4 separate regions of the Homo sapiens genome follow, and all the other regions are linked to region 4. The links come from fine-mapping of genetic effects on gene expression. A gene starts in region 4. Each other region holds a variant in brackets. All regions are shown on one strand. Distances are from middle to middle.

Region 1 (5,144 bases), 49 kb after region 4:
CGTGTGGGGGGCCGGGCTGTGGGAAGGGAAACCCTCTGTGGGGCCTGTCCAAGCTGGGAGGGTGCATGCCCTTTCTTCACGGAGCTCACAGTCTTGCAGGGACAAGGACATGAAAGAATCTCATGCACAATATCAAACTGCAACTGTGACACCGGCTTCCAAGGAGAAGCTCAGAGTTTTTACAGCAGGGGTCCCCAGTGCTATACTGCACACCCAGATACTGGTCTGTGGCCTGTTAGGGACTGGGCTGCACAGCAGGAGGCGAGCAGCCAGCGAGCAAGCATGACCACCTGAGTCCTGCCTCCTGTCAGATCAGCAGCGGCTTTAGATTCTCATAGCAGCACGATTCTTATCGTGAACTGTGCACGCAAAGGATCTAGGTTGCACACTCACAGATGGTGCCTGATGAACTGTCACTGTCTCCCATCACCCCCGGATGGGAACGTCTAGTTGCAGGGAAACAAGCTCAGGGCTCCCACTGATTCTACATGATGGTGAGTTGTATACTTACTTCATTATATATCACAATGTAATAATAATAGAAATAAAGTGCACAATAAATGTAATGTGCTTGAATCATCCCCAGCTCCCTCCCCACTCTCAGGCCCATGGAAAAATTGTCTTCCATGAAACCAATCCCTGGTGCCAAAAAGGTTGGGGACCGCTGTGTGACTTAAGGTCACAGGGGGCAGGGGAGGCTTCCCTATGGAAGGAAACTCACACATGTGTGAAGGCCCCAAGTGGGAACATGTTTAGCAAAATTCCAGGAGCTGAAGCAAGGCCAGAGAGGCATCGGATGGGGCTGGGGATACACAGGGGCCTCTCAGCAGCCGGGAGGGAAGCCTCTTCCAGATCCCCTGCATACATGCTCACCAGCCCTGCCCTGACACACCTGTCCCCTGACGACAGACTCTGGCTCCAGCAGGTCTGGCCTGGGAGGACTTCACCCAGAGGAGCAAAACATTGTCAATAACCAGGGATCGGGGAGTAACTCACGCTGCCCAAAGTGCAGCTTGAGGGCCCTGGGAGCCACTGTGACGCTACTGTGTATGCTTCATTTAGTATGCACCGGAACAACAGGAAACCAGAATGCCGCACCAGCTTCGGATGAGGCTAAGTCAAAATAAATAAATAAGAAAGAAATCAATCAACTGAACTGATTTTAAAAATGTATTAAATAAACATGTTGCAGGTGGCTCCTGAAGGTTGTAGGCAAACCTCTAAAGTTTGGGAAACAATGAGGGAATTTGACACAAAGACCATCCTTAGGAGGGACCGGCACTCAGCCATGGCGAACGTGTAGGACCGAGCCAGGTGCGGTGGCTCATGCCTGTAATCCCAGCACTTTGGGAGGCTGAGGCTGGTGGATGGCTTCAGCCCAGGAGTTTGAGACCAGCCTCAGCAACATAGCGAGACCCTGTCTCTACAAAAAATACAAAAATTAGGCAGGTATGGTGGCATGCGCCTGTAGTCCTACCTACTCGGGAGGCTGAGGTGGGAGGGATAGTTTGAGCCCAGGAAATGGAGTTTGCAGTGAGCCGAGATTGAACCATTGCACTCCAGCCTCAGCAACAGAGTGAGACCCTGTCTCAAAAAACGAACAAACAAACCAGTAGGACCTGAACTCAAGTTCACTCTCTCAGACTTTCCCCACCCAGCTCCTGGACCCCACCAGAATTCAACACATGCTCACTGAGCACCTCTGTGTGCCAGGCCTATGCTGGGCCCCAGGGTCACAGCAGTGCCCAAAAAGAATCACTCTGTGACCTCCCAGAGCTGACATTCTGCAGAAGAGACAGACAACGATCAGAAAGACAAGCAAACACATGACCGCACATCTGACAGTGAAGGAACTGCAGAGGGGTGCAAGGTCAGGCTGTGCTGGGTCAGGCTGCCATTTCAGAAAGAGAAGTCATTTGACTTGAGACCAGAAGGAAGTAAGGGAGGGAGCTCTGTGGGTTCCTGGGGAATGTGGGTCCAGGGAAGGCCAAAATCGAGTGCAAAGGCCCCTGGCGAGAATGTACTTGTTACCTTCATGGAACAAGAAGGAAAGAAGCATGCTTGAGTGGAGTGATGGAGCCAGAGTGGTTGCCCAAGGAAGCTCGATTACACAGGGCCTTGTAGGCCACAGGCAGGACTGGGGCTTGTTTGTTTGTTTCTTTGTTTGTTTGTTTTGAGGCAGAGTATCGCTCTGTTGCCCAAGGAAGCTCGATTACACAGGGCCTTGTAGGCCACAGGCAGGACTGGGGCTTGTTTGTTTGTTTCTTTGTTTGTTTGTTTTGAGGCAGAGTCTCACTCTGTTGCCCATGCTGGAGTGCAGTGGCACAATCTCAGCTCACTGCAGCCTCTGCCTCCCGGGTTCAAGCAATTTTCCTGCCTCAGCCTCCTGAGTAGCTGGGATTACAAGCATGTACCACCACGCCTGTCTAATTTTTATATTTTTAGTAGAGACGGGGTTTCACCATGTTGACCAGGTTGCTCTTAAACTTCTGACCTCAGGTGATCCACCCGCCTCAGCCTCCCAAAGTGCTGGGAATACAGGCGTGAGCCATCCCGCCCAGCAATGGAATTTAATCCTAGGTTTTTTTTTTTTTTTTTTTTTTGAGATGGAGTCTCGCTCTGTCACCAAGGCTAGAGTGCAGTGGCATGATCTCGGCTCATTACAACCTCCGCCTCCCGAGTTCAGGTGATTCTCCTGCCTCAGCCTCCCAAGTAGCTGGGATTACAGGCACGCACCACCATGCCCAACTAATTTTTAATAGACACGGAGTTTCACCATGTTGGCCGGGCTGGTCTCGAACTGCTGACCTCAAGTTATCTGCCTGCCTCTGCCTGCCAAAGTGCTGGGATTACAAGTGTGAACCACTGTGCCCAGCCAGGACTTGGGCTTTCAAAGAGCGCGTTGAGAAGCCGCTGGAGAAGTGAGTTCGGAGGGGTGTGATGGCAGGCTTGAGGCTTCAGAGGCCCACTGGCAGCTGCGTGGACAGTGAGCACAGGCTATCAGTGGAGGCAGGGACAGGGCTTGGGAGGCCCTGGCCATTGTCCAAGAGAGAGGAAGTGGAGATGGGGAGAGGGGTGGGGTCAGGACCCATTTTGGAGGAGGAAGTGGTG[A/G]GACTCACTTGAAGAGTCAAAGGTGACTCCAGCAGCTTCCTTAAGAGGTTGAAGAAAGCAGGAGGGGCAGGTTCAGTGGAGAACGCAAGAGTGATCTACTCCGGCCGAGTTCAGGCCCAGGGAGGCCCTCAGGGACAGGGAAGGCAGATGGCACCCCCTCCCTGGGAAATGCCAAGCCGAGGAAGAGTCAGAACACATGACACAGTGACTCAGAGAGATGGGGGCAGACGCTGAGATGAGGGTTGGCCAGGCAGGAAGGAAGGTGAGAAGGTCTCATGGCCTCACGTGCCAGTAGGGCTGGGCCACCACGTGTGGGAGGGAGGACACCCAGGCACCAGGCCATGGTCATGACACGGGTCTCTTTGTCCCTCCCGGTCTGCCAACCTCCTGAGTCACTCCTGACGGAGATGACTGATCCATCCCTGGCCCGCCTCCCACCCTGTCCCTGGGACAGTGCCTGGGGCAGGCAGCTCCATTATCCTCCTTGATGAAAGAGCTCCCAGCCAGCACTGGCCACTCCAGAGCCTCCTCCCCAGGTGGGTGATCATGCAGGGCTGGGCTCTTGCGACTGGCCGGGGGTAGAGATGCACCGCACTGCTGAGAAGTGCTTTCTAGGAGTTCAAGACCAGCCTGGGCAACACAGCAGACATTGTATGTAGAAAAAAAAATGTTTAAAAATAAGCTGGGCACAGTAGTGCATGCCTGTCATCCCAGCTACTCAAGAGGCTGAAGCAGGAGGACCACTTGAGCCCAGGAGTTTGAATCTGCAGTGAGCTATGAGTGCACCACTGCATGCCAGCCTGGGCAACAGAGTAAGACTCAGTCACTAAAAAAGAAAAAAAAAAAGATCGAATGTGGTGCTCATGCCTGTAATCCCAGCACTTTGGGAGGCCAAGGCGGGCAGATCATCTAAGGTCAGGAGTTTAAGACCAGCCTGGCCAGCATGGCAAAACCCCATCTCTACTAAAAATACAAAAATTAGCCAGGCGTGGTGGTACGCGCCTGTAGTCCCAGCTACTCAGAAGGCTAAGGCAGGAGAATTGCTTGAACCTGGGAGGCGGAGGCTGCAGTGAGCTGAGATCGCACCATTGCACTCCAGCCTGGACAACAGAGTGAGACTTGGTCTCAGAAAAAAAAAAAAAAAAAAAAAAAAGAAAGAAAAGAAAAAGGGGGAGAAAAAAAGGAGAAGTAGGCGAGCCTCTTTCTTTCCCCACTCTTCTCGCTCTCAACTCCAGGCTGCTCCTTAAACAGGAGGTGACAACCTCAACCTCGCAAATTAAAAAAAAAAATCTTTTAATTTTGAAATAATTATCACAGGAAGTTGCAAAGATAGAACAGAGAAGTCTGGCAGCAGCTGAGCCAAAGGCCCCTTCCCACCCTAGAGCTCGATCTGCCTGGGGAGCGGGAAGGAAATGACAGTTTAGTCCCAAAGGGCCTCTCTGTGAAGCTCAGGCTAGGGCTGAGTAGCCAGAGGTGGGTGAATTAATGTCTGCAGGGAGTGCTGGGTCAGCAGCGTAAGTGACAATGTCTGGAATAATGACAGCTCACTTTTACAGAGAGCCCGTTCCATAGCAGCCACCATGCAAAGTGCTGTAGGGGCTGGGGACCTGTCACAGCATAGCCCTGAAGTCATAACAGCAATCTTATTATCACCCTGGGAGGGAAACTGAGGTGATGTCACAACAAACACGTGGCAGACCTGGGACTGGAACCCGGGTCTTTTTACCACATGCTTGTCATGGGATGTGCGAGTTGCTGAGTGTGTCCTGTGTGTGCTGTCACCAGCCCGGTGAGGAAGGCACTATCATTGTTCCCGTCTTACCATCCTGGGCAGAGGTTGGGGGGTGAGGGGGACATAGCCAGGCAGGGAGTAGCCACCCAGGGCTCACAGGGACTCTGTTAGTTGCCTGCTTTCACTGCTTCCCTGGTAAAGGGGTGACAGTCAAGTCACCAAAAAAGGAGACCAACGACCTGTTTGAAGGAACAGGGAGGAAGAGTGAAAGCGCCGAGGCTGCGTTCTCAGGAGTCCTGCT
Region 2 (5,144 bases), 37 kb after region 4:
CATTCAACATGCAAAGAATTCAAAGCAGTGTCTGCTACACAGTACATGCTCTGTGCTGTGTACATGGCGACAATCAGTACATGGCAGATACAGGTTAGTCCTCGGGGGCAACCTCTCGTGGCAAAGCCGTCCCTCTCCTGCTGACCTATAATCTTCAGGCACTTTCCCTCCTGGTTCTGTTCCCTAGCGGGGCTGATGTGATCCTGGCGCGGGGCTGCGTGGTCCCCTGCTCCCTCCAACTGTGCGTGCTATCCTGGGCCAGCTTCCCCCTCTGGTTGTCCCCTGATCCCTGTTACACCCCACACCAGTGATTCTTCAGTTTAAGAGTCAGAGAGAGGAGCCGATGGGAGTACTTGAACAAGCCTGCAGCACCAACTCACATACATTTTCCGGTGGGGTGCAGATCTCTCCTTTATAGTAAGAGCAGCAGGCAGCAAATGCGCGTTAGGGGCCTGCCCTGGGCCAGACCTTGAATCCTCTACAGCTGTTTTCTGGTTCAGTTCTTATTTTTATTATTATTATTATTTTTTTTTTGAGACTGAGTCTCGCTCTGTCACCCAGGCCAGAGTGCAGTGGCACGATCTTGGCTCACTGCAACCTCTGCCTCCCAGATTCAAGCGATTCTCCTGCCTCAGCCTCCCAACTAGCTGGGATTACAGGCATGCGTCACCATGCCCAGCTAATTTTTTATTTTTAGTAGAGACGGGGTTTCTCCATGTTGCCCAGGCTGTTCTCCAACTCCTAGTCTCAAGTGATCCACCCGCCTCGGCCTCCCAAAGTGCTGGGATTACAGGTGTGAGCCACCATGCCCAGCCTATCTGGCTCATTTTCAATTCTAGGGTCACCCTGTGAAACAGGGGTGTGTTATAATTATCCCCTTTACCAAGGAGAAAACTCAAGGGCGGAATTCCCTGAGGCCAGGCAGCTATAAAAGTGGGTCCGAGCCCGATAATTCCAGACTCCTGTCTGCCCCAGCTGTTAAACCTCTGGCTGCCTCACCTCCCTCACAGCTCTTAGCACTCTAGGACTCAATCCGGCTTCTCTTGAAAACGAACACGCAGGCAGATGTGGAGTGTGCAGGCCTCACCTGCTAGACTTGAGGGGAGCAGTGGCCCTGTCCCCTGCCCCACCTGCCAGCTCCCTACTCTTCACCCAGGCCTGTGTCAAAGTGCTTGCCCTTGGAGAGTGCGACCCTCAGGCCCCCTCCCTCTCCACACAGTCAATGTTCCCTGGCACCAGGTCTCCAATGTTCACTGACAGTGGTGGTGACCCTTGAGCAGGGCCTTCTGTCTTACCTGCCAACCCCAGAGCCCTGAACGGCACGGGGCATGCAGGAAGTGTGCAACCTTACCGAGTGCCTGAGATGTCTAGGGAACTAGCTTGAGTACGTTGTACGCATTGACCTATTTTGTTCTTACAACCATGTGATTGAGGGGAGGGTACCATTCTTCAACCCAGTTTAATACAAGGAAACAGAAGTTTGACTGGCATCCAGTCCCAACAGGGCTGAACAGACCTGGGCTAGAATCCCAGCTCTGTCCCCATCCTCCTGCCTGAGCTCAGGCGAGTGACTTCAGCTTTGCAACCCTTAGCAAGGGTTCATAACAGTATCTTACCACAAAGATGGCTGTGAGAACTAAGAGAATTAGGCTGGGCGTGGTGGCCCACACCTGTAGTCCCAGCACTTTGGGAGGCTGAGACAGTTGGATCACTTGAGGCCAGGAGTTCGAGACCAGCCTGACCAACCTGACAAAACCCCATCTCTACTAAAAATACAAAAATTAGCCAGGCGTGATGGCGCACACCTGCAGTTCCAGCTACTCAGGAGGCTGAGGCAGGAGAATCGCTTGAGCCCGGGGGGTGGAGGTTGCAGTGAGCTGAGATGGAGCCAGTGCACTCCAGCCTGGATGACAGAGCAAGACTGTCCCAGCCCCCCACTCCAGCCTGGATGACAGAGCAAGACTGTCCCACCCCCCCACTCCAGCCTGGATGACAGAGCAAGACTGTCCCATCCCCCCACTCCAGCCTGGATGACAGAGCAAGACTGTCCCACCCCCCTACTCCAGCCTGGATGACAGAGCAAGACTGTCCCATCCCCCCACTCCAGCCTGGATGACAGAGCAAGACTGTCCCACCCCCACACTCCAGCCTGGATGACAGAGCAAGACTGTCCCACCCCCCCACTCCCCCACAAAAAAGAAGAACTAAGAGAACAATACTGAGTGTTCATAGTGCTACATACTCTGTGGATATTGGATGTCATCATCTTTCTCACTGATTTTTCCTTTGGACTCCAGGTTAAATATTTGTTGTGTGTTTTGCTGCTGAGGTTTTGCTCATGTGACCTCTCTGC[G/T]GGAATGGTTCTGTCTATCCACCCATGAGTACTTGGGTGGGATGTTACGTATTTTTAATTTTAATTTTTTATTTTTTTGAGACAGGGTCTTGCTCTGTTGCCCAGGCTGGAATGCAGTGGTTTGATCATCGCTCACTGCAGCCTCAACCTCCTGGGCTCAACTGATTCTCACACTTCAGCCTCCTGAGTAGCTGGGACTACAGGCACACATCACCATGCCCAGTTAATGTTTTAATTTTTTGTAGAGATGGGGTCTTGCTCTGTTGCCCAGGCTGGTCTCAAACTCCTGGGCTCAAGTGATCCTCCTGCCTTGGCCTCCCAAAGTGCTGGAATGACAGGTGTGAGCCACTGCACCCGGCTGGGATGTTAAGTGTTTACAACACACTTGCGCGCCTATCTTCGGAGTCCCGTAGCCCCTTGTGAGTTACTGACTGTAACCCCCTGGTTTGCACAGATGAGAACTCCATCCTAGAGGCCCAGGAGCCTGAGTGGCCTCACCCAGCCAGTAGATGGCAGAGCTGGGATTCAAGCCAAATCCATCCCACCACAAACTCCTCATTCTTTGTACCTTTGTCTTACAGGTTTGTCTAGAGTCCCATAACAGTTTCCGCAGCTTCACAGGTTGTCTGAAAAGATACTAAGCACGTGCACCGGCAGGGTGTCGGCGTTCCGCCGACATCCAGGTCGAACACTTTGTCACCAGAGCACCAGTGGGGCTGTCTTGAGTGGAAGTGCTTTGAAAAAGTTTTATGTCTGTCGGTTCAGGTTCGCTGTTATTAATGTACTCCGTGGCGTGTTAGCTGGTTAACGCTATAGCAAGCATATTGCAGCTCTGCCCGAACAGGACTTTTTATTCAGTAGACTTAGAGATGTTTGCACAGAGGTTCCCATTCCTGCCGTGAATCCGTGTGCCCGTGTGACTCCCAGGTCCACCACCGTTACCGGCACATTCTTTTTGCTAGCAATTGAAAATAGGTGGGGTAGGTGAGCCAAGGGTCTCTTGCCTGTGTGTAAGTGGGTTTTGGTGAGAACTCACTGAGAACCAGTGCTCAGTCTAGAGCAAGCCAAGGAGGGTGCTGGACTCTCAGGCCAAGAAAGAGAACACAGTTTAAAAAGCAGCATTCTGTGCTGTAATACAATTGCGTATTTTGGTACAAAAATTAGCCAGGCATGGTGGCACGCACGTGTAGTCCCAGCTACTCAAGAGGCTGAGGCAGGACAATCACTTGAACCTGGGAGGCAGAGGTTGCAGTGAGCAGAGATCGTGCCACTGCACTCCAGCCTGGGCGACAGAGAGACTCCGTCTCAAAAATCATAGTAATAACAATAATAATAATAATAATTTCCTGTTTTGGAAAATGAAAGAAAAAACCTACCAGTACTATTTTTGTAATCCAGTGGCAGCAAAGCAAAGCTCAACCAAGTGACTTTGGGTGGAGGGTGGTGTTTGGTGCTAGTGGCAGGAGGGAATCTCATGGGTGAGGAAGGGCCGGGGTTCAAGGCGGCTTTAGGGGAGGAAGTGGGGGGCATCTGCAGCGCAGACTGAAAGGAAGGAGCACAGCCTGGAAGCCAGAAAGGAGGGGATAGTCTAAGCCTGTGTGAGCCCCAAGGGTCTGGGGAGGCCGGGGGCTGGGAGAGTTCCATGGTTCCTCCCTTCTACGTGTGGGGCCCAGAGTGGAGAAGGAGCAAGCCCCTGTCTTGATGGAAACAGGAGGCCCCTTATGTAAGTGTGTGATGCAGGGAGGGTGAGTGCTGGGGAGGAGAACTGAGTGAGGCAGGGAGTGAATGATACGTGGAGCGAGGTGCAGCTTCCCTGGGTGGTCAGAGAAGGAGACGCCGCATGGGTAGAGGCCAGTTTGGAGCGAGGGAGGGCGTTCCACAGGCAACTGATGGAAGTGTTCCAAGTTGAGGGAGAAACGTACAGACCCTGGAGTGGGAGAAAGCTCCACGATTTTCAGACACAGCAAGGAACCGGTGTGGCTGGAAAGGACTAAGCCAGGGGGAGAGAAGGAGAGAGTGTGTGGTCAGGCAGGGCCTGAGGGGCCTTGTAGATGAAAGACTTTGTATTTTGGGCTGGGCACAGTGGCTTGCGCCTTATAATCCCAGCACTTTGGGAGGCCAAGGCAGGAGGATTGCTTGAGCTCAGGAGTTCAAGACCAGCATGGGGAACATAGCAAGACCCTGTCTCTACAAAAACAAACAAAAACCCTCCAGTAACTATCATGAGTATGACAGATTTACCGTCCTCTGCAATTCTGAACATAAAGCTTTAAAATCAAAAGGCTTTTTGCAAATTTGGCACCACCCTGATTTGACAGCAAAATCTCGCCTAAAGAACACAAGGCTGTTTGTAATCTATACTGATTTCATTTAGGGTGAATATTCGTACTTTTTGCTGTATACATTACATTGAACTATGTGAAATTTTTTCTGCATGTCAAAAATGGTCAAATGTGGCTGGGCGCAGTGGCTTATGCCTGTAATCCCAGCACTTTGGGAGGCTGAGGCGGGAGGATCACTAGAGGCCAAGAGTGCAAATGAGCTATAGTACTGCCACTGCACTTCAGCCTGGGCGACAGGGCCAGACCCTGTCTCTAAACGATAAAAAATAAAGGATTTGTATTTTAGGTGAACCACGGAGCAACAGAAGGAGGGTTTTGAGCAGAGAGTGCCATGATCTGATTTATGTATTACAAGGTGAATGAGGTTAGAGAGAGTGTAAGAGCCAGGGCCCAGGAGAAACGGCCCGTCCCTGTGACATAGTGCTCTGTCCAGGCTGAAGCTGAGGCTA
Region 3 (5,144 bases), 36 kb before region 4:
CCGAGGCGGGTGGATCACCTGAAGTCAGGAGTTCGAGACCAGTTAGGGTAACATGGCGAAACCCTATCTCTACTAAAAATACAAAAATTAGCCGGGTGTGATGGTGGGTGCCTGTAGTCCCAGCTACTTGGGAGGCTGAGGCAGGAGAATCATTTGAACCCAGGAGGCGAAGGTTGCAGTGAACTGAGATTGCGCCATTGCACTCCAGCCTGGGCAACAGAGTGAGACCCTGTCTCAAAAAAAAAACAAAAAACAAACAAACAAACAAAAACACCTAGGGCTAAATTATACTTCATAGTAAAATACTAAGAATAACACAAGTATTTCTGCCATCAACTTTTCCATTCAGCATTTTACTGGAGGTAAGATACAAGCAAAAAATTAGATATAAGGTCATATATTAAATATGATTTATATACCAGCAACAAAGAATTAAAAGATGAAACTTAAAAGATTACTATAGGATAGTATGAAAAAATTAAATACCTAGGAATAAATATAATAAAAGATATGTGAGTCCTCTACATTAATAACTTCACATTATTGGGAGAAATTAAAGAAAGACTAAACAATGGAAGTATTTGCCACATTCACGGATTGGAAGACTAAATATTGAATATATATTGATTTACCCCAAATTTATCTTTAGATTCAATAAAGTCCCAATTAAAAAAAAATAAGAGTTTTGGGGTGGAAACTACAAACCGATTCCAAAATTTGTATATAATGGGCCAAGAATAACCAAGACAATCTTGAAGAACAAAGTTGGGAAACACTACCACATATTGTGACTTATTGAAAGGTATAAAAAGACACTGTGGGCTGGGTGCAGTGGCTTGTGCCTGTAATCTCAGCACTTGGGAGGCCAAGGAGGGCAGAATCACTTGAGGTCAGGGGTTCAAAACCAGCCTGGCCAACCCCTTCTCTACTAAAAATATAAGAATTAGCCGGGCATGGTTGCGGATGCCTGCAATCCCAGCTACTTGGGAGGCTGAGGCAGGAGAATCGCTTGAATTTGGGAGATGGAGGTTGCAGTAAGCTGAGATTGCGCCATTGCACTTCAGCCTGGGCAACAGAGGGAGACTCCATCTCAAAAATAAATAAACAAATAAAAGGAAAAAAAAAAAAGAAAACCAAAGACACTGTGGCATTGGGACAAGGATGGATAGATAAATTGTATCCAGGGTCCAATCAGGAGACAGAAACATCAGTGTCTACATTGTCATGAGCCCATGGGCCTGAGTAGCTCGGTCTCTAGATTCTACATTTGGCCTCCCCCTGAATATCAGAAGCCTGTGCAGACAAGAACTAGGTCATTGCTGTGTCCCTAACATCACCTGCCCAGGGCACACTCAGAGGAAACACCAGGGAATTCTTCCTGCATGCGCATCTCAGCAAGCCAGTGAGGAGACCTTTTCCTTAGCAGAACCAACATGAAGGCTTATGGGCTGGGAGACGGAGCCCGGTTTTCTGTTGGAAGGTAACCCATGAGCCCAGGTGAACACAGAAAACAAAGTCTGGGTGAGGGTCAAGGGCAGGGCTACGGCCCTGGTCCTGTCACCTGTAGATGGAGGCCAAGGGGCAGGTGAGCCACCTGTTGTTCATCCACTTGCCAGGCTGGTAAAAATCAAAGATGAGGTATGGCTAGTGAATTTCCTTGACGGGGTTGCAGGGTACGTGGCAGGCTTCCACCTGCAGTTCGGGCCGCATGCGGCTGAATTGCATCTTCTCATCTCTCAGATACAGCTGGCAGGGCATAGGTTTTTCCACGGGCTCCTCAATGTAGCAGTACCCCAGGCGTCTGCACTCACCCAGTTCCCCACAGCGGTTACAGTCCTGCCGGGGGTCCCAGTGGGTAAAGATGAGTACCTTGCCATCCAGGATCAGGGTCTCATTCTGCAGGGACTTTTGGTCCAGGCTCTTGTGCGTAACATGAAGGGTGGTGACAACCTGGAAGTCGATCTCGTATTGTACCATGAGGGTATCATCATTGCCCTGGCAGCGATAGAGGCCAGTCTGGGAGGGCTGAGGGTTGGTCAATTGAAGGCTACCCCCAGGCAGTTTCCTTATGTCAGGCATTGAATTAAGCAGAGAAGGATCTTCCCCAAGAATGGAAGAGAAGTACCAGAGTGCCATGGGATGGTCACACTTCAGGACAGCATCACTGCCTGAGAGTAGGGCTCGCTGGCAAAGGTCCTTGTAGGCACAGCTGATTAACATCTAGGCTCACAGAGTGGGGCAAGAAAGGCTAAGCAGCCACAGGGTGTCCAGCATAGTGGACCAAGGCTGTAGAAGGAGGCTAGGAACTCCCTGGCCATTGTGAAGTCACTCACAAAACTCGAGGATCAGCCTAGGCAATGGAATGAAACTTGATCCACTGTGCTTCCAGGAGTACAATTCAGTTC[G/A]TGTCATCAAATGGCTTGTCATAGGTTGTAGGGTCGAAGGTCAAATATCCACATGAGCTAGGCAGGAAACAAAATGGGTGAGCTTAAATCAGAACAAACGAACTACAAAGGCAAATTATTGGCCCTCCACATACCCAATATATAATGATGGAATGGGACAAAATGACTTTATGACCATCAGAAAGTGGAAGAAGAGGCAGGGCCCAGTGGCTCACACCTGTAATCCCAGCACACTTTGGGAGGCTGAGGCCGGTGGATCACCTGAGGCCAGGAGTTCAAGACCAGCCTGACCAACATGGTGAAACCCCGTCTAACCCCGTCTCTATTAAAAATACAAAAATTAGCCAGGTGTGGTGGTGCATGCCTGTATTCCCAGCTGCTTGAGAGGCTGAGGCAGGAGAATCTCTTGAACCCGGGAGGCAGAGGTTGCAGTGAGCTGAGATCCACCACTGCACTCCAGCCTGGACAACAGAGAAAGACTCTGTCTCAAAAAAAAAAAAAGAGAAAGAAGAAAGAAAGAGAGAGAGAGAAAAAGAAAAGAAAGAGAGAGAGAGAAAGGGAAGACACACAGAAATCACTGCTCTGTACCACTTCTGCAATCCAGTGGGAAAACATTACAAGGACCCCCTATCTTGTAGATGGGAAAGATTCCTTAACTAGCACCGAAGCAGCTCCTTGTTGTGTGTGGGGAGGGTAGGGGGATTCCCAAATCATTGTTCTCTGTGGGTCATGTCTCACTCTCCAGGGAAATATCTCCTTTTCTCATATTCTCCTTGGCTACATCTGAAGATGTGCCCTCCTTGAGACAACAGCAGTTTACTCAGCCTGCTTTCTATCTCCCACAGTTTGGGACCTACGGTTCTTATAAGCCTCTAGTCAACTAAATATGTAAACAAACAAACAAACAAACAAACAAAAACACACACATAGCCGTAGTTCTGTTCGAGATGTTCTCAGGCTGGGCTCGGTGGCTCACGCCTGTAATCTCAGCACTTTGGGAGGCCAAGGTGGGAGGATTGCTTGAAGCCAGGAGTTCGAGACCAGCCTGGGCAACATGGTGAAACCCTGTCTCTCCTAAAAATACAAAAATTAGCCAGGTGTGGTGGTGGGCTCCTGTAATCCCAGCTACATAGCAGGCTGAGGCAGGAGAATTGCTTGAACCTGGGAGATGGAGGTTGCAGTGAGCCAAGATCACACCACTGCACTCCAGCCTGGGCAACAGCACAAGACTCTGTCTAAAAAAAAAAAAAAAAAAGATGCTCTTATCCTCTCTCTCTTTCTGTCTCTTTCTCATTTCAGGTACCTTAAACTCTATCAGCCATCCTTGGCGAGCTATATCTCTTAACTCTCTTTCATGGAGACATTTGTCCACCTGAAAGCGTTTTCTGGTAGTATCTTAATTCATTCAGAGAATTTTTAAACAATGGGTAATAATTATTTACCTAGGCTTATACTTTTGATTTTATCCTTGTCAAAAGCTGAATTCTAATTGGACTTTATCTCTCAAAGCCCTTCTCAATTTTTAGCTAACTTTGGCCAACTTATACTGCTAACATCTTATATTCCAGCAGCTTCCTTGAAAGCTACAAGTCCATTAAATACATTATCTGCCTTCCAGAGTATCTCAGGCAACAGCCTCCATCCTTCTGGTTTCAAATAAGTGTCTTAGTCCCAAAGGTATCTAAGCCAATGCTGTCTTTTTATTTTTGATTACCTCAGCACCCTACTCCTGATACTATTTTGGTATCAATCTAGATAAGTTATTTGCTACTATAATAAACTTCCAGCCAGGTGTGGTGGCTCACGCCTGTAATCCCAGCACTTTGGGAGGCTAAGGAGGGCAGATCACCTGAGGTCAGGAGTTTGAGACCAACCTAGCCAACCCTGTCTCTACTAAAAATACAAAAAATGACAAAACCCTGTCTTTACTAAAAATACACAAATTAGCCAGGTGTGGTGGCATGCACCTGAAGTCCCAGCTACTTGGGAGGCTAAGGCAGGAAGATCACTTGAACCCGGGAGGTGGATGTTGCAGTGAGCTGAGATCATGCCACTGCACTCCAGCCTGGGTGACAGAGCAAGACTTCATCTAAAAAAAAAAAAAAAAAAATTCCCCCCAAATCTCAACCACATAAAACAACTAAGGTTTACTTTTTACTCATTGTGCATTGGTATTGGAATCACTCAGGAATCCAGGGTGATGGCGCAACTGCCATCTCAAACATTTTCAGTTTCTTCCAAGGAGAAAGAAAGAGCTCTCTGTAAGATTTTGGGTCTACATTAAATGCTTTGCCCTTAAGTAACACATGTCATGTCGCTTGCTCACAAACCATTGGCTAGAAACAGCTACATGGCACCACCAATCCACCAAGCCAACAAAAGAAATTGAACTCTAGCTGGGCGCCGTGCCTCACGCCTGTAATCCCAGCACTTTGGGAGGCTGAGGCGGCGGATCACGAGGTCAGGAGATCGAGACCATCCTGGCTAACACCGTGAAACCCCATCTCTATTAAAGATACAAAAAAATTCGCCGGGCGTGGCGGTGTGCACCTGTAGTCCCAGCTGCTGGGGAGGCTGAGGCAGCAGAATGGCGTGAACCTGGGAGGCGGAGCTTGCAGTGAGCCGAGATCGCGCCACTGCACTCCAGCCTGGGCGACAGAGCAAGACTCCATCTCAAAAAAAAAAAAAAAAAAATGGAACTCTACTATTTCCAGGAATCTTTTGGCAAATGGCAGTAAT
Region 4 (5,144 bases):
CCCCCTGTCCCTAGAAGTCCGCAGTGGCTACAGGATTCAGGCCAGCCAGCAGGACGACTCCATGCGGGTCCTGTACTACATGGAGAAGGAGCTGGCCAACTTCGACCCTTCTCGACCTGGCCCCCCCAGTGGCCGTGTGGAGCGGGGTAAGCAGGAGCCTTGGGGTCTGAGGGCTTTTAAGGTGGGGGGGTGAAACATGTCTCCCTGATACCTGCCGCAGGGACTCTTGGTGCAAACCCTGGACCCCGGGCTCCTCCAGCAGTCAGTGACACCCCCCTTCCCTGCAGCCATGAGTGAAGTCACCTCCCTCCACGAGGACGACTGGCGATCTCGGCCTTCCCGGGGCCCTGCCCTCACCCCGATCCGGGATGAGGAGTGGGGTGGCCACTCCCCCCGGAGTCCCAGGGGATGGGACCAGGAGCCCGCCAGGGAGCAGGCAGGCGGGGGCTGGCGGGCCAGGCGGCCCCGGGCCCGCTCCGTGGACGCCCTGGACGACCTCACCCCGCCGAGCACCGCCGAGTCAGGGAGCAGGTCTCCCACGAGTAATGGTGGGAGAAGCCGGGCCTACATGCCCCCGCGGAGCCGCAGCCGGGACGACCTCTATGACCAAGACGACTCGAGGGACTTCCCACGCTCCCGGGACCCCCACTACGACGACTTCAGGTCTCGGGAGCGCCCTCCTGCCGACCCCAGGTCCCACCACCACCGTACCCGGGACCCTCGGGACAACGGCTCCAGGTCCGGGGACCTCCCCTATGATGGGCGGCTACTGGAGGAGGCTGTGAGGAAGAAGGGGTCGGAGGAGAGGAGGAGACCCCACAAGGAGGAGGAGGAAGAGGCCTACTACCCGCCCGCGCCGCCCCCGTACTCGGAGACCGACTCGCAGGCGTCCCGAGAGCGCAGGCTCAAGAAGGTGAGGGCCGCCCTCCCTGGCGTCCAGACCGTCCCTGGGCCCCCAGCCGGTCCCCGCGGCTCATACCCTTCTTTCTTTCTCCCTTGCAGAACTTGGCCCTGAGTCGGGAAAGTTTAGTCGTCTGATCTGACGTTTTCTACGTAGCTTTTGTATTTTTTTTTTTAATTTGAAGGAACACTGATGAAGCCCTGCCATACCCCTCCCGAGTCTAATAAAACGTATAATCACAAGCTCTGGAGAGAACCATTTGTTCGGCCGCGCGGGGCGGGGGACCGGGGCTGCTCCCGTATGCGTCTGTAAAGCGCCGCGTCCCGGGGGCACCGGAGTCCGGGGCCGGGAGGAAGAGACCCAGCCTGGCCCGGCCCGCGCCCGCGCCGCCGGCCGGAGAACGTGCCCCGCGCAGCCGCCGCCCGCCTGCGTGCGCGCCCCGGCCCCGCCCAGGCGTGCGCATGCGCCCCGGCCCTCCGCCTTCGCGCACCGCAGGCTGGCCGTCCGGGACGCGCGCGCGCTCCTCTCCCCTTCCAGCCCATCCCCCCCAGCCCCCCACCGACCTACTTTACTGTCTCCAAACTCGGGCAGCCCACCTGGCCCCCGACGACCCCAGCCCCTGCACCGGGTACCCCGACGTTCCATCCAGACCCGCGTTTCACCAGGGCGGCGCGCGGCGACCTCGCGCCCCGCGGAGCCCCGGGCTCGCGCGCGCCCGCCCGCCCCCGGAGACAGACCAGCGCGCGCGCCCCGGGCCGCCTCCCCCCAGCGCGCGTCCGCCCCGGGGCTCGCGCCGCCGCCGCCGCCGCCGCCGCGCGCGCGCAGCTCAAGTAAAGGAGGAAAAAAAAAAGGGGGAAAAATAGAAAGCGGCGGCGGCTGCAGCAGCGATCCGCCGCCGGACTGGGCCAAGCCGGGCGGCGGCCGCGCGAGCCGGCGATCCAGGGCACTGGCGGCGGCCAGCCAGGGCGGGCCGTGTTCAAAAAAAAAAGTCGCGGCGGCGGCGGCTGCTCAGGGAAGGAGGCCTGAGGGCCGCGTGCAGCGGGCGGGCAGCTGGGTGGGCTGGGGGCGGCCGCGCGGCGTCCCGGAGCCTCGGGCCGCCCGGAGCCGGCGGGCGGGCGGAGGCGGAGGCGGCGGCGGCTGCAGCGGCTGCAGGAGCGGCGGCGGCTGCGGCGGCGGCGGCGGCATCTCCTCCTCACATGACCCCACTGTTTGTCCCCGTGATCAGCGCGAGCGGCTCCCGTATCTCCTCCGTCCCCTCCTGCCGCGCGGCGTGAGCGCCGGGCTCGGGGCCCCCCCGGCCGCCCGCCCCCTCCCCTCCCTCCCTCCCCTCCCCTCCCCTCCCCCCCGGGCCCCGCGCCCCCCCCGCCCCCGCCCCCCCCATGGACATGCTGGACCCGGGTCTGGATCCCGCTGCCTCGGCCACCGCTGCTGCCGCCGCCAGGTAAGATCCCCGGCCCGGCCGTGCCCCCGCGCCCCGGCCCCGGCCCCGGCCCCGCGGCCTGCAGGCCGGGGCCGCCATGATCCCGAGCGGCCGCGGGCCCGGCTCAAAATGGAGGCCGCCGGCGCGGGGGGGACCTGGCGCCTCCCGCCCCCGGCCCCCGGCCTCGGCGGCGCCCCCGGCCTCAGGCGCGGCCGGGTGGGACTGGGGCCCTGCAGCTGGGCGCGGGGGCGGGGGCGCGGGCGCGGGCCGCGCTGACCCTGCTCCCTCCTGTGCCCCTGGCAGCCACGACAAGGGACCCGAGGCGGAGGAGGGCGTCGAGCTGCAGGAAGGTGAGTGCTTGCCGGGCCGGCCGCGCCCGGGGAGGGCTGGGGGCGCTCGGCGCGGCCCTGACCGTGCCCCGACCCTCCTCGGCCCCAGGCGGGGACGGCCCAGGAGCGGAGGAGCAGACAGCGGTGGCCATCACCAGCGTCCAGCAGGCGGCGTTCGGCGACCACAACATCCAGTACCAGTTCCGCACAGAGACAAATGGAGGACAGGTGAGCGGCGGGCCGCGAGGGCGAACGGGCGGGCGGGCGGGCGCGCCGGGAAGGCTCGGACCTGGCCCCAGCGCCGGCCTCGCCGCTCTGCCGCCCCCTGCAGGTGACATACCGCGTAGTCCAGGTGACTGATGGTCAGCTGGACGGCCAGGGCGACACAGCTGGCGCCGTCAGCGTCGTGTCCACCGCTGCCTTCGCGGGGGGGCAGCAGGCTGTGACCCAGGTGGGTGTGGACGGGGCAGCCCAGCGCCCGGGCCCCGCCGCTGCCTCTGTGCCCCCAGGTCCTGCAGCGCCCTTCCCGCTGGTAGGTGCCCTGCCACCCCTGGGTGGGGGGGGGAGGGAGTGGAGAGGGGACACTGGCTCTGCTCTTGGGGAGCCCCGGGGGTGGGGCAGGTGTCGCCCAGCGGATGCTGCCTTCAGGCCTCAGGCTGCATGGGGCCAGATCCCTGTTGTGCACCGTGAAACCTGGGGACAGTGCTCTTGGAATTTTTTTTTCCCGCAAAATGGGAATGATGTGTCTTAAGAGGAAAGTTTCTTAGAGTGCGAAACGGATTTGCTCAGCAAGTGATCGCTGACCTCCCGCCATGTTCCAGGGCTGTTTGAAACACAGGACAGAATGCTACACGCAGAAGGAGTCCCCACTCCTGTTAATTGCAGAGAATGCAGTAAACCCCAAGCACAGCAATGAGGGGACGGGATGGAGGAACAGAGAAAGCTAAGGGTAGCCTCTGCCCTCCTACTCCCCAGGCTGTGATCCAAAATCCCTTCAGCAATGGTGGCAGTCCGGCGGCCGAGGCTGTCAGCGGGGAGGCACGATTTGCCTATTTCCCAGCGTCCAGTGTGGGAGATACTACGGCTGTGTCCGTACAGACCACAGACCAGAGCTTGCAGGCTGGAGGTGAGGAGTAGAAGTCAGATTGGCAGGTGGGGGAGGCAACGGGCCCAGCAGGGAGGGAAGCCCCCCCAGCCAGTTCTGACTTCACCCTGCCTTGCCACTAACCCCCCACTCTCCCTGCAGGCCAGTTCTACGTCATGATGACGCCCCAGGATGTGCTTCAGACAGGAACACAGAGGACGATCGCCCCCCGGACACACCCTTACTCTCCGTATGTGCAGGGGACACCTGGAGGGCCTGGTGTTGAAATGGAAGGAAGAGGGGTTTCTGGAGTAGAAGCTGGGCAGTTAGCATGAAGTGGGCACATGGTGTAATGTTTTTTTTCTTTGCCTGTTTCTGCTGCTCTAGTGCACATAAAGTATCATGTCTTTTGTTTTTGCAGATGGATTTACCTTGCAAAGATAATTTTCAAATCTAATACTTAGCAGATGCTTGGGCAAACAGCTCTGCGATAATACATGCCCCCTTTTTTTTTCCTCCTCTTGTAGAAAAATTGATGGAACCAGAACACCCCGAGATGAGAGGAGAAGAGCCCAGCACAACGAAGGTGAGGACAAGGTGTGGCTCCGGGTCCCCCTGACCACCACCCTCACAGGCTCAGCCAGCCCTGGAGTGTGGAGTGACAGAGAGAGAAGCCACTCCTGGGCAGGCCACAAGTGCTCCAGAGGGCTTTGCTGGACGCTGTAAAGGTAGAAAGTGAGCAACGAGGGGAGAGTACAGTGTCAGAAGTAGAGGGACAGGGAGTGTGAATTGGAACTGGCCATTTGTTGACCCGGCTGGTGATCTTGAATTCATGGCCCACATCTAAGATGGTGGACTTCACACTCCCATACGGATTGCCTGCCCCACTTGAAAAATGGGGCTGACCGGGCTCACGTGGGCTGACCTTTCCACGTGGCAGCTGTCATGCTCACATCCCGCACTCCCATGCCTGCCTGGCCTCCAGAAGTAGGTCTGTTCCCCCAGGGAGCACATCTGAGGGAGAAACTGCATGAAGTTCTGCCTCTGGCTACCTAAGGCCGGAGCATCCTGCCCTTTCCAGAAACACCAGGTCTCACCTCAGGTCATTTGGCCTTCAGCACTGTCCCGCCCCGCCTGTCAGTAGCCACTGCAGTGGGCACAGCACTGTGCAAGTGCCAGGAGAGTGCTTACACCCAAACAACCATCATTCAACAAATATTTACTGCCCGTGGGTTCTGGGCTGAGCGGCACAGGCCCTGTGCCAGGTCTGGAGTCTGGCCTGGAGCGTCAGGGAGGCTCAAAGGCCTGAGGGCTTATGTCTCATGGGTCTCATGGGACATTGATGGGGGGTGGGCTGGGGTGACGCTTCCCTAGGGAGAGGGGAGTGTGGGTCAGGTTACTTTGTGGGGT

Evidence for each region. PIP is the estimated chance that this variant, and not a neighbour inherited with it, causes the effect.
Region 1: its variant is the best candidate, but not a certain one, in a credible set for the expression of USF2 in lung (TOPMed, PIP 0.50).
Region 2: its variant is the best candidate, but not a certain one, in a credible set for the expression of USF2 in whole blood (INTERVAL, PIP 0.65).
Region 3: its variant is the best candidate, but not a certain one, in a credible set for the expression of USF2 in whole blood (TOPMed, PIP 0.83).

Annotation. Positions count from the first base shown.
Region 1 is chr19:35,315,786-35,320,929 of GRCh38, forward strand. No RefSeq gene overlaps it. Among named protein-coding and RNA genes, the nearest start is that of CD22, 11 kb to the right of the region's middle. RefSeq lists an enhancer at 3,260-3,439. The variant A/G (reference allele first, on the strand shown) is at 3,112.
Region 2 is chr19:35,304,025-35,309,168 of GRCh38, forward strand. The region is part of intron 7 of MAG (myelin associated glycoprotein); the gene reads left to right. Among named protein-coding and RNA genes, the nearest start is that of MAG, 14 kb to the left of the region's middle. RefSeq lists an enhancer at 706-1,593. The variant G/T (reference allele first, on the strand shown) is at 2,354.
Region 3 is chr19:35,230,730-35,235,873 of GRCh38, forward strand. It overlaps the pseudogene FAM187B2P. Among named protein-coding and RNA genes, the nearest start is that of FAM187B, 4.6 kb to the left of the region's middle. The variant G/A (reference allele first, on the strand shown) is at 2,406.
Region 4 is chr19:35,266,822-35,271,965 of GRCh38, forward strand. USF2 (upstream transcription factor 2, c-fos interacting) reads left to right here and starts at 2,141. Exons shown (of 10, transcript NM_003367.4): 1 at 2,141-2,342; 2 at 2,625-2,671; 3 at 2,760-2,878; 4 at 2,982-3,182; 5 at 3,626-3,776; 6 at 3,897-3,984; 7 at 4,262-4,320. The coding sequence starts at 2,281. LSR (lipolysis stimulated lipoprotein receptor) reads left to right here. Exons shown (of 10, transcript NM_205834.4): 8 at 15-146; 9 at 288-913; 10 at 1,003-1,143. The coding sequence ends at 1,038. RefSeq lists silencers at 922-1,001, 1,082-1,151, 1,252-1,401, 2,560-2,749, 2,890-3,209 and an enhancer at 3,497-4,236.